2 separate regions of the Homo sapiens genome follow, and region 2 is linked to region 1. Evidence: fine-mapped expression QTL. A gene starts in region 1. The other region holds a variant in brackets. All regions are shown on one strand. Distances are from middle to middle. Region 1 holds the start of DGKZ (diacylglycerol kinase zeta). Region 2 overlaps AMBRA1 (autophagy and beclin 1 regulator 1).

Region 1 (8,330 bases):
TGTTTGCTGACATTATATTGTACATAGATTGTTTGTTTCCTGAATGTCTTCCCCACTAGAATCTAAGCTCTGTGAGGACAGAGCCCTGCTTCCTTGTTTTTAGAGCTATGTTCTCCGATACGGTGCCTGATGCACAGAAGGCATTCAATAAGTATTTATTGAATGAATTAATTTGTCAACCTTCCTATCTCTTCTTTATTCCTCAGATAACACCATGAGCTCAATTTTTTTTTTTTTTTTTTGGAGACAGTGTCTCACTCTTGTCACCCAGGCTGGAGTGCAGTGGCGCGAACTCGGCTCATCACAACCTCCACCTCCCAGGTTCAAGCGATTCTCCTGCCTCAGCCTCCCAAGTAGCTGTGATTACAGGCACCTGCCACCACGCCGGGCTAATTTTTGTATTTTTAGTAGAAATGGGGTTTCACCATGTTGGCCAGACTGGTCTCAAACTCCTGAGCTCAGGTGATCTGCCCACCTCGGCCTCCCAAAGTGTTGGGATTACAGGTGTGAGCCACCATGCCTGGCCTATTACTCCACTTTACAGATGAGAAAACTGAGGCTCAGAAAATCTCCCTGGCACATGTATTCATTAGTTTATTTGTTTATAGGCTACCTTGTCCCAAAAGTTATTTAGAGGACTCCGAGAGGTTTATGACCTGATCCAGGCCACACAGAGCTGGTAAGAGGCAGAACAGGACACATGCTCATGTCTCCAGGCTCCATCCTCATTGCTCATTTCTCTACACCACCTTCCTGTATGCCCAGCCCTGTGTAAGATGGTATGCTGCACACAGAAGTGCTAGGAAGAGAGCGCTCTTTGAGGGCTGGGCACACCCAGCCATTGTACCTGGTGGTTGTCATAAAGCGGGAGACCTCAGCAGGACCAAGAGTTGAAAATCAGACAGTTTAAATGGAGAGGAAAACCAGACAGGAGCCCAGGTGCAGATTCCAGCCCAAGCAAGCCCCATGGCTGCCTCCTGGCTGCTGGTCTGGGCTTGTCCCCACCTGCCCCTTGCTTTCTTGTGCAGCTCTTCACGGCAGCTGGCCCCAGCCAGCGGAAGGCGCCTATGAGCCCTGAGCCTGTGGTCCTCAGCTTGGGCGGCCAGCGGCCTCTAGCAGGCCCCCCCCTCGACCCCACCCCCGTCAGGAAGTGCCGAAAGAGGAAGAGAGTCGCCGGGCAGGATGAGCGCACCGGGGGCTGGCCACAGTGCCGGGGGAAGCTGCAATGAATCCTCAGCTCTGGGCCCAGTGGAGGCGCTGGGGACGGAAGAAGGGGAGCGGCCGGGGTCACTGAGGCAGATGTGGCGCTACCGCTCCTGGGACGTGCCACAGATCCCATCAGAGGCACCCCAGACACAGTAGGTACAAGGGGTGGCCTGGGAGTGGGCATGGGACCTCTGTCCCTCTATGAGCCTTTTATCTGAGATGGGGGTGACAGAAGTAGGGTCACCCATCTGTCATCCAGCACTCTGCAGAGGCACAGAGTAGGGCAAAGGAGTTATTGGCAGGGTGCAGGGAGCTCTGATGTTTGGACTGTGTGGAGGAACTGAGCTCGAGAGAGGCCAGGAGTTGAGCAAGCTAGCAGTGGGGGGATCTGGGAAGAGGAGCCCCCCCAGGAGTGTGGCACTGGATGCTGGAGATTTCTGACCCAGCTGCAAGGCCTTGTGGAGACTCCGTGGGGTCTTCAGTTGCCTCTGATCTCTTCTCTCAGAGCTTGGAGTAAGAGCCATTGGGAAACTTCCCCAAAAGGACCCATGCACCCCAGAGGCCAGTTGTCAGGCATACTTGGGGATTGATCTGCCCTCCTCCTGGCCACCCTGGCACCAGCTGCTGGCTGGAGGGCTGGAGCCCCACCTCCCTGATCAGACCTTCTCCCAACTTGCAGGAAACTGGGAGAGGGTTCTGGGCCTCGGGGTGCTGGTTCTTCCTCAAAATCACAGGCTTGTCCGCAGGTCACAGCCCTAAGCATTGGCTATTTGCGGCTGACTAAGGCTGGAAAACGGGCTGCCAGAACCCAAGAGGGGAGGATGAAAGCGAAGGTGACACAGGATGTGGCTTGGCAGAGAGGCGTGCACACAGAAGTAGTGGGCAGCTGGTGTGGGCAGCAGGGTGGTAGGGTTTGGGGAGGTGGAAGACCATGCTTCCCAGCTCCTGGCCTCCCTTCGTCAGCCCTGCGGGGGCCATCAGAAACAGCCCCGGTGTGTGTGATGGCTGTGCCCCTACAGGTGACTGCTTGGGTTCCAATTGCTCTCATTTCTGGAGGGGGACGGCCTCGGCTGCATTGTGGGGTGTCTTTGTGTGTGCATGTGAGGTATATTTCTGGATGGGAGTGTGTGCATATGCACACACATACATATGTGTGAGGGATGTGGCAACCGGTAACCATTGTCCTGGGAGTATTTGTATGTAGGAGAAAGGTGTGTGTTCTGTGTGGGCATGTGTGCTTGTGAATGGGAGTGTGGTACCTGTTGTCCTTCTGTGTATTTGTGAGTGTGTAAGGGCTGTGCAGGTGATTCCCGTAGCATATGAGATCTATAGGTTCTGTTGAATACTATGTCAGGAAAATGCGATGTGTTGGGCCTGGGTGAGAAGGTTGGAAACCATTGTGAATAGCTGTGGAAGGATGACTTTGTAGGAGAAACTTGTGAGTTCTTTGTTGGTGTGTGTGCGAGTCATTAAGTGACTTTGGTCACTGAGTGCGAGAGGCTGGGGTGGGAAGTGTTCGTTTAAGTAATGAGTGGGCATAATTGTGTAAGGGATGTGTTTGTTCTGCGTGCATGGGGAGCACTGTGTGACTTTTGTTCCCCTGGGTGCGATTTGGGGGAGCCAAGGAGGTATGGGTGGAGATTGTGAGTGGCTATGAGTAGGGTGTGCGAGAGCGGAGGGGAGGTGGTGACAGCAGCCCTCGCGAGTGTACACTTGTGAGCGTGCAGTTGTTTGGTAGCGGAGGGATCGGGGGAGGAAAGATGCGCGTCTGGATGCGCGCAGTGCGAGTGTGCCAGGCCGGGAGATTCAGTCCCATCCAGGCGGGCCGGGCCGGGCTGGGGGCAGGGCTTTCTGCTGCCCCGCCCATTCGTCGCCCCGCCCCTCGGACCGCCCCAGCGGGCTGCAGCGCAGCGGGCGTCCGGCAGAGGGCGCTGCGGGCCCGGTGCCACCGTGCGGCCGAGGGGGCGTGCTCGGCGGCGGGCAGGCAGCGGCCCGGCCAGCTATGCGGGGTCCTGCGGCCGCGGCTGGCGGCACTTCCTGGAGCGGCGGCGGCAGCGGCTTCCCGGGCACCTGGGCGTGGGGAGCGGGGGCGCGCGGCGCGGGGCGGGCGGAGCGAGCGCGCGCCATGGAGGTGGCGGGCGGCGCGGAGCGGGCGTGCTGAGCCCCGGCCGCCGGCCCGGCATGGGCGTCTCCCGCGGGCCCTCCGCCGGCCGGGGCTAGGGCCGGATGGAGCCGCGGGACGGTAGCCCCGAGGCCCGGAGCAGCGACTCCGAGTCGGCTTCCGCCTCGTCCAGCGGCTCCGAGCGCGACGCCGGTCCCGAGCCGGACAAGGCGCCGCGGCGACTCAACAAGCGGCGCTTCCCGGGGCTGCGGCTCTTCGGGCACAGGTGAGCGGGGCGGCGGCGGGGCAGGCACCGAGGCACCGGCAGGTTACCGCTCCCTCACCGGGGGACATTCCTCGGCCACTGGGGGTCCGGGCCACTTCGGTACTGACACTGAGTCGGGGAGAGGCTGGCACCGGCGGCACGAGCCGTCTTGGCGTGGGCACCCACTGGGAGTCATCCCCCAGGGCCGGGACACGGGCGGGATCGGTCGGCTTGGCACTGTCACCGGGTGGGGGTCATTCCCTGGCACCGGCAGTCTAGTGCGCCTCATGTGTAGTACCGTGGGAGGATCGGCTCCCAACCCTCCAGCAGGAAGATGGAATCACCCCAGCCCCCGGCACAAGCAGGTTGGGCCCCCAGGACTGGTCACCCACGCCTTCTTGGCACTGATAGAACAGGGCCTCTCTGAGCCTCCTGGCACCACTGAGGTGGGGATCACACCGCCCTTTGGACTTTCGTGGGACCAGGTTGCCTACCATCACTGCGTGGCATCTGCAGAACGTAGCCCCGTTGATACCGTCACCACACATGGCTTGTCCCCAAGCTCTGGTCACTGGTTTAATTGTTTAACATGTTAAGCTTCTCCTTGGGGTTGGGGGTGCCTGATCATCTGCCCTACCTTGCTCTTAATTAGCAGAGAGACCCCAGCCCATCCCTCTGCTAGGCAGGCAGCATGTCTCCCTCTACCCTCTTCCAGCCCATGCTGGGAAAGGGATGGGGTGGGCTGGAGTCTGGAATCTGCTGGCTGTTCAAGCTTCATCTTGCCCCCTCCCCCAGCACTCCAAATGTCACCATCTTGTGCCTGTGACAGAGCTTTGACCAGGACTCTAGCGGGGAACCGGGGGGAGAGTGTGGAAAGACTGAGTGCAGGCAGTTCATGGCAAGTGTGCTGCTCTTGGTCGTGAGCCGCTGCCTGCCCTGGTAGCCGTGGTGTAAGGTAAGGGACGTGAGGCCCCAGGAGTACCTGACCTGGCTCCCTGCGCTTCTTCCTGACCGAGCCTTGCCCTTCCCTGGTGGCCAAGGAGCTTGTAGCCAATCAGCCAAGGACCCCAGAGCCACCTCAGACTGAACTCTGACCACTTGGAGTCTGCCCAAGGCCTCCCTCTCACTTTTCTGCAGCTGCCTAGACTTGGTGGCATTCACCCCCACCCCGCCCCTTAGCTTTGCTCTGCCCCTTCCCTGGGTAGACTTTACCCACCAATAACATGGGCGGTTTTCTCCTGTCGTGTGGGCTAGCATACCCGTGATGCTGACTTGTGCCCTCTACCCGTCTCACCCGGGCTAGGGCCCACTCTTTGCACCTGCACTCTGTCTCTGAGCACATGCACAGATCTGAATTCTTACACTGGCAGATGGAGCTCCGTGGGCTCCTGTGTTACCACGCAGGCTTCAATGTCATATAAAACAGAGCAGGGAGTGAAACTTCCAGTAGCTCTGTTTTGTCACCCACAGCCCTGCAAGATGGAGCAGTTTACACCCAGCTCTGCAGGATGTAGCCTCCAGTATTCACAGGCTCCGCAGGGGGAGGGAGGGGCGCCACCAGAGGCTTCCTGTTGCTGCCCACAGGGTATCAAGTGTTGGGTTCTTCTGACCTGTGGCTGTGCCCCTTCTGAAGGGCACAGGTTTGTGGGTATAGGGATGAGCACATTCGGGAGGAAGAACAAGAAACCAGAGAACCAACAGATACCTTTATGTAATTCTCTAAAATAAGCAGGGTAGGTGGTATTCTTCCTTTTGTAAAACAAAAAAAAACCAATTTTTTGTAGAGATGAGATCTCACACAGCATTGCCCAGCCTGGTCTTGAATTCCTGACCTCAAGCAGTCCTCCCACCTCGGACTCCCAAAGTGCTGGGATTATAGGTGTGAGCCACCACACCTGGCCTGTTTCTCCATTTTTATAGATGAAAGAAACACAGTCAGAGGGGATTTGCTCAGAGTCACATAGCAAGGAAGAGGTAGAGATAAGGTTTGAAGTCAAGTTGGTGTGATTCCAAAATCCACATCCCTTTCTCTATACCAGGATCCCAAACGGAACATCACAATGGCCAAGGGAGCTTTAAGAAATACAGATTCCTAGATCTTCCCTTGGCGTGTCTGACCCATCAGGTCTGGAGGTGGGGCCTGGGCATTGTTTGAAGCTTCCCAGGTGATTCTCATGTCCCATCAAGTTTGAGAAGCACAGTAGTCCGTCACGCTGGGGAGTGTAAGTGCTCTTATAGGATGCCTGATGAGAGGAAAGAAAATTCAGCAGCACCTCTGGAAGCATGTAAGGAGTGTCCTTTGTTTGGGAGCACTGTGCTGGGGATAGTGGGGCCTTCAGAAATGAATACATTCAGAGAACCCAGTAGTATCAGGCAGAGAGCAGCAAGGGAAAGCACTTTCTCCTGGCAGGCCTGGGAGCTCACTGGGGCTGGCCTCCTTCCCTTTGACTTGATGGGGCCAAGGGGTGGGTGCTGGGGGCAGACATGTGGAAGGGTGGAATAGTACACCTGCTCTGGGTTCTGCCCCCTCCAATGCTGCTTGGCTGGTCCTGCTACCTTTGTTTGTTTGTTGCAGCCTCAGGTAAAAGTCCTCGAAGCCCCAGCTGAAACCAGCCCTTCATCTTATCCCAGCTCCATGCTAGCTCTTAACCTAGCTCTTGCTTCTCCCCAGTCATCCACCCCATGTCCCCCATCCCGCCCCCTCCCCACCCCACCCACATACACACATCCAGCCTTGGGGTTGAGGGGCCCGACGGGAAGATCAAGGGTAACAACTAGGTTGGCAGTGGCTGCTGAAGCCAGGTGGAGAATTCTGCATGCGGGCCCTGGCTCATGGGGAGAGTTCCATGAACAATTAGCAGTGTCTGCTGTGGGCTTGGCAGGGGGTCTTGATGGCACATGGGCCACATGTTTGCCATCCTGGCCCCTCTGGGTAGGACAGTCTCTGAATGGCAGCCCCTGTGGGGCTGAAAGAGGCTTTTCCTTAAAGTCCATCTCTGCCCCACACAACTGGCGTCATCCTCTCAGAATCGGGGGGTGGCAGCTTGCCATCTCCCTTTTTTTTTTTTTTTAGCTCAGTGAGCCATGATTCTCCCCAGCTTGTGGATTCCTCCCACCCCAACTGCATCCCACCTTACTTCTTGCCGGAACTATCAGTCTCCTCCCTGAGGAGGAGGAGGAGGAGAGGAGGTACAGGCCCCTACTCTGATCCCAGGGTATTTAGTTTTCCTCTACCCTGAGCAGAGGGCAGGCAGGACCTTTCCATTTAAGCTTCTGTTGACCCTAAGGATTGGGCAGCCAGGAGTGGGAGAGAAGTGGACTCTCTCTCCTCCTCCAGGACCCACCGGGAAGGAGGACCCGCTTATCCTCTGGCCTGGTCTCAGCAGCCTGATCCTGGCAGGTCACAGGGCTTCTGGATTAGCTGGTTTTACACCCCAGGGGCATCAGAAATTACCTGGCACCTCACACATGTAGACATAAGGAGCCTTGGCCTCAGAGCCCCTAGGAGCCTGAGCGTCTGTGCCGCCATCCCCTGCCCTTCACGGTGCTCAAAGTCACAAGCTCCCAGAGGGCAGGAGGCACACCTGCAGAACCAGTGTGAGACAATGGGTCCCATTTAGAGGCACTGCCACACGGCCCCAGCGAGCATGGCCCTGAAGTCAGGGCTGCAGAGGGTGCCCAGCGGGTGCCTGAGCAGAAGCAGCCCCTGTTTGAGTTGGTTCTGCAATGAATAGGGAGGGACGTGTTGAGGGACGCCTCTTTTGCAGAGGTGAGAACCCTGTCTATGGTGCCAGGGTGTCTGGGAGCGAAAGGAAACCTCTTTGAGTGGTTTGTCTCACCTGGGCTAATGCTGGGAGCAGCCCAGGTTGCTGTGAGAGGCAGGGACAACCTAGAATCCTTGGGTTCCAGCAAGTTTGGGAAAGAAAAATGGGCCTCAGTGGCCGAGCTGCGTTCATCTCACTGTGTTTGCTCCCCACACAAGGTCAGGTGCCAGAGTATACAGCTGGCCCCTGCTGGGAACCCAGTGTAGAATTCTCACAGTCTCCCTCTGTGCCAAACGCTGTCAGGGGAGGGAATGACAATTCTTGTCATTTTGTCTCCATGCCATACTCCAAAAAGGTCAGATCCTGGGATGTGGAGCTGCCCAGGATTCTCGGTTGGCACAGGAGCTTGAGAGTTGGTGTCCCCTCAGGCAAGGACAGAGGAAGGACTAAGTGACCCCTGGTGAGAGAAAGCTGAGGCTCCAGGCAGCTGGGCTGGGGGAGAGTGAGAGAAACGGGCCTGCCCTCCTCGGCTCCCTGGAGGCCTCTCCAGAATTCGCCAGTGGCCCCCCCGGGGCAGAGGTGAAAGTGGAGTCATAGGTTAGCCCTGAGTCTTAGGCCGCGCGGGCCCCTCGGAGAAGCAGGGATCCGGAGCCCTTCCACCCACTTTAAGGCAGGAGAGAATTGGGAGGTGTGGAAGCAGCCCCTGGAGGCTGCCCTGCAGTGCCTCTGGAGCGACACAAGGGGGCGACAGCTGCCGTTGTGGGAGGCCGGTGGGCGAGGAGCTTCTCCTTCCGCCAGTCCACAGGCCCACGGGGACCCACAGGCACTCGCTGGAAGTTACCTGCAGCTCTAGCTGCCGGGCGGAGCCAATCAGTGCGGCCCAGGGCAGGCTGGGTGGGTGCCTCTAGCCTCCTGGCCCCACCCCTCCCGTCCCCTGAGGCCCAGGCCCAGCCAGGTGGCCTTGACTCAGCCAAGTTCTCGCAGCTAGCCGGGG
Region 2 (8,330 bases), 120 kb after region 1:
GCACCTGGCCCTTTTACTGTTAATTTAGAAGAGATCTGGGAGAGAGTGGAGATAAACACACATGTTCATTCTTTCATGTTTACCAGAAGTCTAGGGCCACATACTGGCAAGTATTTCTGGCATGGGAAGATTATAAGCAGGGAACAACCAGGCAGGAAACTGCTACGAAAGCATAATGGCCTCAATCAGGGCTAGAATAGTGAGAAGAGATCCTGGAATCTTCAGTTTACTTAGGAAAACATGGTTGCTATTCTTCCAGGGCATAGGATGGTGACAGGTATATTGGAAACCCTCACACATTTGTTGAATGAAGAAATGGCCAAACAACAGCTGCCTTCTTTGAGTGGTTCTGTGAATTATAAGAACAATAGATGATAAAGAATATGCAGCAAGCAGTGCGTGGTGGGACCAATCACTAATACAAAAAAAAGTGGGGAGGGGTGGCGGGCAGCATGGTGGCTCACACTGGTAGTCCCAAGCACCTTAGGAGGTGCCAAGGCAGGAGGATGGCTTGAGTCCAGGAGTTTGAGAACAGCCTGGGCAATATAGTGAGACCTCATCTCTTGAAAAAAAAGAAAAAAGAAGAGGAAGGAGGCCCAAGCATTACCCTTGGCTCAATGTAACTCTGAACTCCTGGGCTTATGGAATCCTCCCACCTCAGCCTCCTAGTAGCACAAGCATCACTCTTAAAGAAAAGGAAGGCCAGGGCCAGGCGCAGTGACTCACGCCTGTAATCCCAGCACTTTGGGAGGCTGAGGTGGGTGCATCACAAGGTCAGGAGATCGAGACCATCCTAGCTAACACCGTGAAACCCCGTCTCTACTAAAAATACAAAAAAATACAAAAAAAAAAATAGCCGGGTGTGGTGGCGGGCGCCTGTAGTCCCCGTTACTCAGGAGGCTGAGGCAGGAGAATGGCGTGAACCTGGGAGGCGGAGCTTGCAGTGAGCCGAGATCACACCACTGCACTCCAGCCTGGGCGGCAACAGAGTGAGGCTCCGTCTCAAAAAAAAAAAAAAGAAAAAAGAAAAAGAGAGAAAGAAAAGGAGGAAGGCCAGACACAGTGGCTCAAGCCTGTAATCCCAGCACTTCAGGAGGCCAAGGCAGGTGGATCACCTGAAGTCAGGAATTCGAGACCAGCCTGACCAACATGGCAAAACCCCGTCTCTACTAAACATACAAAATTAGCTGGGTGTGGTGGTCTATGCCTGTAATCCCAGCTCCTCAAGAGGCTGAGGCAGGAGAATCACTTGAACCTGGGAGGCGGAGGTTGCAGTGAGCCGAAATCACGCCACTGAACTCCAGCCTGCGTGACAACAGGGAAACTCCACCTCAAAAAAAGAAAAAGAAGATGTAATAAAATATTAGATTTAGTTAGTTTAGGCTTTACAGTTATATCTATATCTAACGTATTTTCATTGAATATGGTAAAATGTGTTTTATGCTGAACTCTCCAGCTCCTAATCTTCCCTTCCTCCAAAATGAAATCATTGTTTTTATAACAGAATTTTTTATTTCTCTGAATGTTTTAGAAACAGAGTACCTTGGGAATGATAGTAAGGAGTTAAAAAAAAGAAATAGAATCCTTAGATTACAACAGACTGTAAAAGAAACATTGGGGACAGCAACTATGAAAAAAAGGTATGGTTCCTAACTTGAGAGAACTGACAATCTTGAAGGAGACAGAAAATATGTACACCTATTATATGTGTAATATATATGAAAACTGTATGAAAATATGTACATTATATGAAAATATGTACAATGAAAATACTATAAACTAGGCACAATTTAAATATGTTATCTTCAGAGTAAAATGAATCTAAGAATAAGACTTAGCAACATATATTTCTTTCTTTTTCTCTTTTTTTAGAGATAGGATCTCACTCTGTTGCCCCAGGGTGGAGTGCAGTGGTACGATCATTGCTCACTGCAGCCTCGAACTCCTGGGCTCAAGCAATCCTCCTGTCTCAACCTTCTGAGTAGCTAGGATTACAGGCCCAAACTACCATGCCCAGCTAACTTAAACTTTTTTTTTTTTTTTTTTTGGTAGAGATATGGTCTCACTATGTTGCCCAGACTGGTCTCGAACTCCTGGCCTCGGGCAATCCTCCTAACTTGGCTTCCCCAAGTGCTGGCATTACAGGAATGAGCCACTGTGCCCAGCCTATTTCATTTTAAAAATTTACAATAATCTAATATCCATACTTGCATTCTGATATAACTAAGCATTGTGTAGCAAGATACTTTATACATTAATCAGTTATATAAATAAGACTTGTATTATCTTCCTTAGAGCTAAAGAAAACATGCCAAGTGCCAAAATAAGTGCTCTAAAAGCTTTCATTCAAGACTGGACACCATGGCTCATGCCTATAACCCGAGCACTTTGGAGGCCAAGCTGGGAGGATCACTTGAGCCAGGAGTTCAAGACCAGCCTGAGCAACATAGGGAGACCCCATATCTACAAAAAATTTTTTAAAAAATCAGCCAGGTTGGCCGGGCGCGGTGGCTCACGCCTATAATCCCAGCACTTTGGGAGTCCGAGACGGGCGGATCACGAGGTCAGGAGATCGAGACCAATCCTGGCTAACACGGTGAAACCCTATCTCTACTAAAAATACAAAAAATTAGCCGGGCGTGGTGGTGGGTGCCTGTAGTCCCAGCTACTGAGGAGGCTGAGGCAGGAGAATGGCGTGAACCCGGGAGGCAGAGCTTGCAGTGAGCCGAGATGGCGCCACTGCACTCCAGCCTGGGCGACAGAGTGAGACTCCGTCTCAAAAAAAAAAAAAAAAAAAAAAAATTAGCCAGGTGTGGCACCATGGGCCTGCGGTCCTAGCTACTCAGAAGGCTAAAGTGAGAGGATTGCTTGAGCCCAGGAGTTGGGTGCTTGCAGTGAGCCATGTCTGCACCACCATACTCCAGCCTGGGTGACAAGGTGAGACTGTCTCAAAAAAATAAAATAAAAAGCTCCCATTCTATCTTCACAACCACCCTAAAGGAAGTTTGTTTACTCATCAGACAAATATTTGAGTATCTACTACATGCCAGACAATGAATAAAACAGACAAAAATTCCCACCTTCATGGAAATTACATTCTAGAGGGAGGAGGAGAAAGAACTAATAAGTTCACCATATAGTATGTTAAATTATGGTAAGATCCATGGAGAAATATAAAACAGGGAAGAGGCATGGAAAATGTTGCATGGCGATTTCTGATAGGGTAGTTGCTGAAAGAATTTACTGAATCCCTATCTAATAGATGAGGAGGAAATTGAGGCTCAGATCAAGATAAACCATTTGCCCATGGTCTCCAGGTTACCAAGAGTTTAGACGAAATTTGAATTCACGCCAGATGCAGTGGCTCATGCCTGTAATCCCAGCACTTTGGGAGGCTCGGGCGGGCGGATCACTTGAAATCAGGAGTTTAAGACCAGCCTGGCCAACATGGCAAAACCCCACCTCTGCTAAAAAATATAAAAATTCGTCTGGGCACGGTGGCTCATACCTGTAATCCCAGCACTTTGGGAGGCCGAGGCAGGAGGATCACAAGGTCAGGAGATCGAGACCACCCTAGCTAACACGGTGAAACCCCATCTCTACTAAAAATACAAAAAATTAGCTGGGCATGGTGGCGGGCGCCTGCAGTCCCAGCTACTCGAGAGGCTGAAGCAGGAGAATGGGGTAAACCTGGGAGATGGAGGTTGCAGTGAGCCGAGATCGCCCCACTGCACTCCAGCCTGGGCAACAGAGTAATATTCCTTTAAGAGTATTTTGGCATTTCCCCCAAAAGGGTTAAGAAATAACTTTCTTTCTGTTTTGTTTTGTTTTTTTTTTAGATGGAGTCTTGCTCTGTTGCCAGGCTGGAGTGCAGTAGCGTGATCTCGGCACACTGCAACCTCCACCTCCGAGGTTCAAGCAATTCCCCTGCCTCAGCCTCCTGAGTAACTGGGACTACAGGCACGCGTCACCATGCCCAGCTAATTTTTTGTATTTTAGTAGAGATGGGGTTTCATCATGTTGGCCAGGATGGTCTCGATCTCCTGTCCTCATGATCCACCCACCTCGGCCTCCCAAAGTGCCAGGATTACAGGCGTGAGCCACCGTGCCTGGCCAGGAATAACTTTCTACTTCAGGATTTGTTGCCTCGTTTCACATCCACATTAATTTTTACAAAAGAGTTGTGAATGGCCTAAGATCTTTGGTTAACGTTATGTTCTTGGAAAAGCTGAGAAGAGATTAAAATAATAATTAGCCAGAGATAGTCAAAGGACACATTGTGGAGCAACATTCAGCCTATGAAAAGATTCTGTGCAAATCCTGGACAAGTCTTACCTCCTCCTTACTGCTGCTGTGACCGCTTCTATTTAGTTCAACAAGAAGTATTTATTTTATGTCCCAAGGGTGCCTAGCACAACTCAGATGTTCTTTGGCAACTCCTTTTATTAAACTGAGATGGATCCTTTTCAGCCACCTGAGCCTGTCTCTTAGCATTGAGGTGTTCTTGTCACTGGAACATCTAAAGTTGGCAGTCCCAGCTTGTCTCAAGTAGTTCAGCTACCGCAAATAACCTGGGTGCTAGGACATATATTTAATTTTCTTCCTTTGGACTACAGATAATATCTTTTTCAAATGAAGTTAGAGCACTTTACCAATTTTTCCTACTTAAATTCTGGAAGGAACATAGCGGTAAGTACCACACCCTCACCTGTCAAGTGGACAGAGGTTAAATGACTCACTCAAATTGTATAGAGAATTACTGAAGGAGTCAGGAGAACAAC[C/G]TGTCAACTTCTAGTTTATTTTCTAAAACACAAGATCAGTAGTTCTCAATCTTTTTGTGTTCACAACATACATTTGAATACTAGATTTCTTAGCAATTTGAAGGAATCAAAAGACTCAGAGAACAGTAAAGTCAGCAATAATAAAAACACAAATCACTTACAGTAAGACAATGTCTCCTAGTCCTTATCTGGTGGCCTTCGGAACTATGTCACTGAGTCACTGAGCAGAGCTGTTCTCCCTGCCCTGTCACCTGCTCACCAGGCAAACTCCACACATGCTCCAGGAAACACAGGCTTGCTCTTTGGTACCAGTCCCTTACCTCTTGCTCATACCAACTTATAAATCCCACTCTAGAACACAGTGTGACTTCCTCAACCTCAAATCAACCTGATATTACAGTAACAGTTTTAGTAAAGGTATATTTTACACACTGATCAAAACTTATTGGCATACAAGAGTGCTAGATCATGTTAGGAAAGTCAGTCTGCCTGCCTTCAGGAAAGCAAAGCCTCCTCAATTAAGAGGTCAACTTGAATTTAGTGGTTAATTAATACTTTAATGCAACGTCACTGGAAAATAAGCAATTGACAAGTAGTGCCAAAGGCACTCATTAAAGACTACATCCTCCTGTATCATGTCAGCATGACAGCCTCTGTGATAGCCAGGAAGAGACAACTGACCTCATCAAAGGAAGCTAAAGCTGGAAAGACACTGCAATACCCCAAAAAAGCTTTCTGAGGAAAAGAAGCCTGTGTACATCTGGTTTGAGTGCCAGGAACTTTAGGTGTGTTTAAGTGACACAGAGAAAAGTAGAGAGGGTGATAACTTGCATTTTTGTAACACATTTCTCTGATAGGATGAGTATTGTATTGACATCTTTGGATAAAGCCCTAACATAAAACAAAGTTAATTCTTCCTGTTACTTGTGGGGGAAACTGTCACAGAGTGATATAATGATCAGTGATAAAGAATCAGAAAAAATCCAGGATTTCTGGAGGTAGAATAGCAATAATAAGTATTGAAAAGGCAGAAAAATAATGGATCCTTTAAGGATTCTTTTTTTGTTTGTTTGTTTTTGAGACGGAGTCTCGCACTGTCGCCCAGGCTGAGTGCAGTGGTGTGATCTCAGCTCACTGCAAGCTCCGCCTCGCGGGTTCACACCATTCTCCTGCCTCAGCCTCCCAAGTAGCTGGCACTACGGACACCCACCACCACGCCCGGCTAACTTTTTGTATTTTTAGTGGAGACGGTGTTTCACCGTGTTAGCCACGATGGTCTCGATCTCCTGACCTTGTGATCGGCCCGCCTCAGCTTCCCAAAGTGCTGGGATTACAGGCGTGAGCCACCGCACCCGGACAGGATCCTTTAAGGATTCTTAAAGAAGGTAACTTAATTTTTCCTGTTAAAAATTCCCAACACTTAGTGTAGGACCTACCTAGCACATAGTAGCACTCAAGAAGTATATTCCAATGAATACACACAAACTTGAAAATAGGACTATATTACTCCTTAGAATAGCAATGAGGAGATCCCTGAACTTTTACTGGTTCAGGGTGCTGCCCTGATTTAGGAAGAAAAAAAAAAAAGAGTAGCAATAAATGTGGTGGTAAAATCAGTCAGTTTGATATTTTTCCTGGTTGATTAATTTCATTATTAAGTTAGTAAATATTAGAACCACCGGAGGAAAATACTTTCAAATGAATAAGGGAATAAATAAATTAATTATTATCAGGTATATGATCAATACGAACAGGTCTATTCATATACTTCTCAACATAAACAGAGGCCCAATTTCTAACCTTGTTCTATTTTTTGAGACAGAGTCTTGCTCTGTCGCCCAGGCTGGAGTGCAGTGGTACAATCTCGGCTCACTGCAACCTCCACCTCCCAGGTTCAAGCGATTCTCCTGCCTCAGCCTCCCGAGTAGCTGGGACTACAGGCACGTGACACCACGCCTGGCTGACTTCGTATTTTTAGTAGAGTCGGGGTTTCACAATGTTGGCCAGGCTGGTCTTGAACTCCAGACCTCAGGTGATCCACCCACCTCGGCCTCCCAAAGTGCTGGGATTACAAGCGTAAGCCACGGCACCTGGCCTCTACCCTTGTTCTTAAGCATCTATACTATACTGTCTGTTGGACAGAGGGGGAAATCCAGAAAGGATTAGTACTCATTCTGGATTTTCCCTATGGCTAGCAGGTAAAGTTAAGTTCAAGGAAAGAAATACAGTACTGGTTCACTGAGGGCAGCTAACCCATATCAGAGCCAGAACAGTGAAAAAAAACAAAAAGCAAGATAGTCGAAAGAGAAAGAACACAGTGTGCGCTTGAGAAATGGACATTTTAAGGCTCAGCCTGACAAAGTCCGCATATATGTATAACATGAGGAGGATGACATTATGTTCCCATAGGATCAACCTGAGTACTTGGAGAGGAGATGAGAGGAGAAAATGAGTGAGGTGAATTGAATATATCTTAAACTGAAAAACAGTCTTATCAATAGAAAAAAAATTAAAGTATTTTAGGTTCTTCTGCAAAGTAGAATAGCAACCCAACTAACTTCAAACCCTAGTCAGCCTATCTGGCAGGCAGCCTCCAGCGCCCAGTGCTACCTATAACTTGGAATGCAAAGTATTAATTATGAATAAGAGAAGAATTCAAGTCCTTGGTTTCCTTACAAGAAAGTAGTTATGGGTGTGTCTCCATGACATTTGCTAACGTTCAACGTTTAAGAACATCAAAGCCAAAAGGGAAGATAGACAAAATATTCAACAGTTTAATGTCCAGGTTCCAGGTTGGAAAAGGAACAGACAAGCATACATTTCTTTGAGGGGGTAGACTGGACCTTAATTCCACATGTATTAGTTTGCTGTATTCTTTGATTGAGTCTATTTCTCTGTATACAAAAATCCCCTCCCATCACAGACTATCCAATGAAAAATGAAAATGAGAGACAGAGGAATCCTAGGATAATTCAATTTGTCAAATTCAGAAGGCCCAAGGACTCAAAATTCCAACCCTTTCCTTCAGAGACAGAGCCCCTGAGGCCATTCCCAGTTTGATAATTTGTTTCAGTTATGCTCCCCACACAAAAGTTATGAGTCATATAAAACTGTAAAATGTCAAATAGTCAACTTGCAACCATCATCACTTTGCTCTGGATACGAGAATCCCGTAATTTCTTGTCGCATACTTCTTTTTTACTGTAAGGTCTCAGATTCGGAGAAAGGTGGAACAGGAAACTGTGGCATTCACAAGAAAGAAGGCAAAGAAAGCAGGCAGCTTCAAATAAAGGATATACTAAAATATCAAGACTAAAATGATTTTTTTCAGGAATTCTAAACCCTAACAGCTATTCTCCAGGTGTCGGAAAAGAACACTGTTCCCCTCCATAGCTGCATTAGCCTTTCAGAAAATGGTCACTCTTCCATATAGGGGAGACACTAATATCACAAAGGAAAAGGTGGAGAGCTGCACTCAGTGCCTGAAAACAATGACTGATGAGTCCACACAAACCAAACCTCCAACACACAGTACCCAGAAATAATAAC

Evidence for each region. PIP is the estimated chance that this variant, and not a neighbour inherited with it, causes the effect.
Region 2: its variant is the best candidate, but not a certain one, in a credible set for the expression of DGKZ in whole blood (TOPMed, PIP 0.78).

The regions. Positions count from the first base shown.
Region 1 is chr11:46,344,228-46,352,557 of GRCh38, forward strand. DGKZ (diacylglycerol kinase zeta) reads left to right here and starts at 3,236. Exons shown (of 31, transcript NM_001199267.2): 1 at 3,236-3,593. The coding sequence starts at 3,433. RefSeq lists enhancers at 919-1,028, 972-1,266, 1,969-2,038, 2,109-2,158, 4,062-5,047 and 2 more and silencers at 2,943-3,422, 3,523-3,572, 3,535-3,748, 4,385-4,544.
Region 2 is chr11:46,467,811-46,476,140 of GRCh38, forward strand. The region is part of intron 11 of AMBRA1 (autophagy and beclin 1 regulator 1); the gene reads right to left. Among named protein-coding and RNA genes, the nearest start is that of MIR3160-1, 20 kb to the left of the region's middle. The variant C/G (reference allele first, on the strand shown) is at 4,782.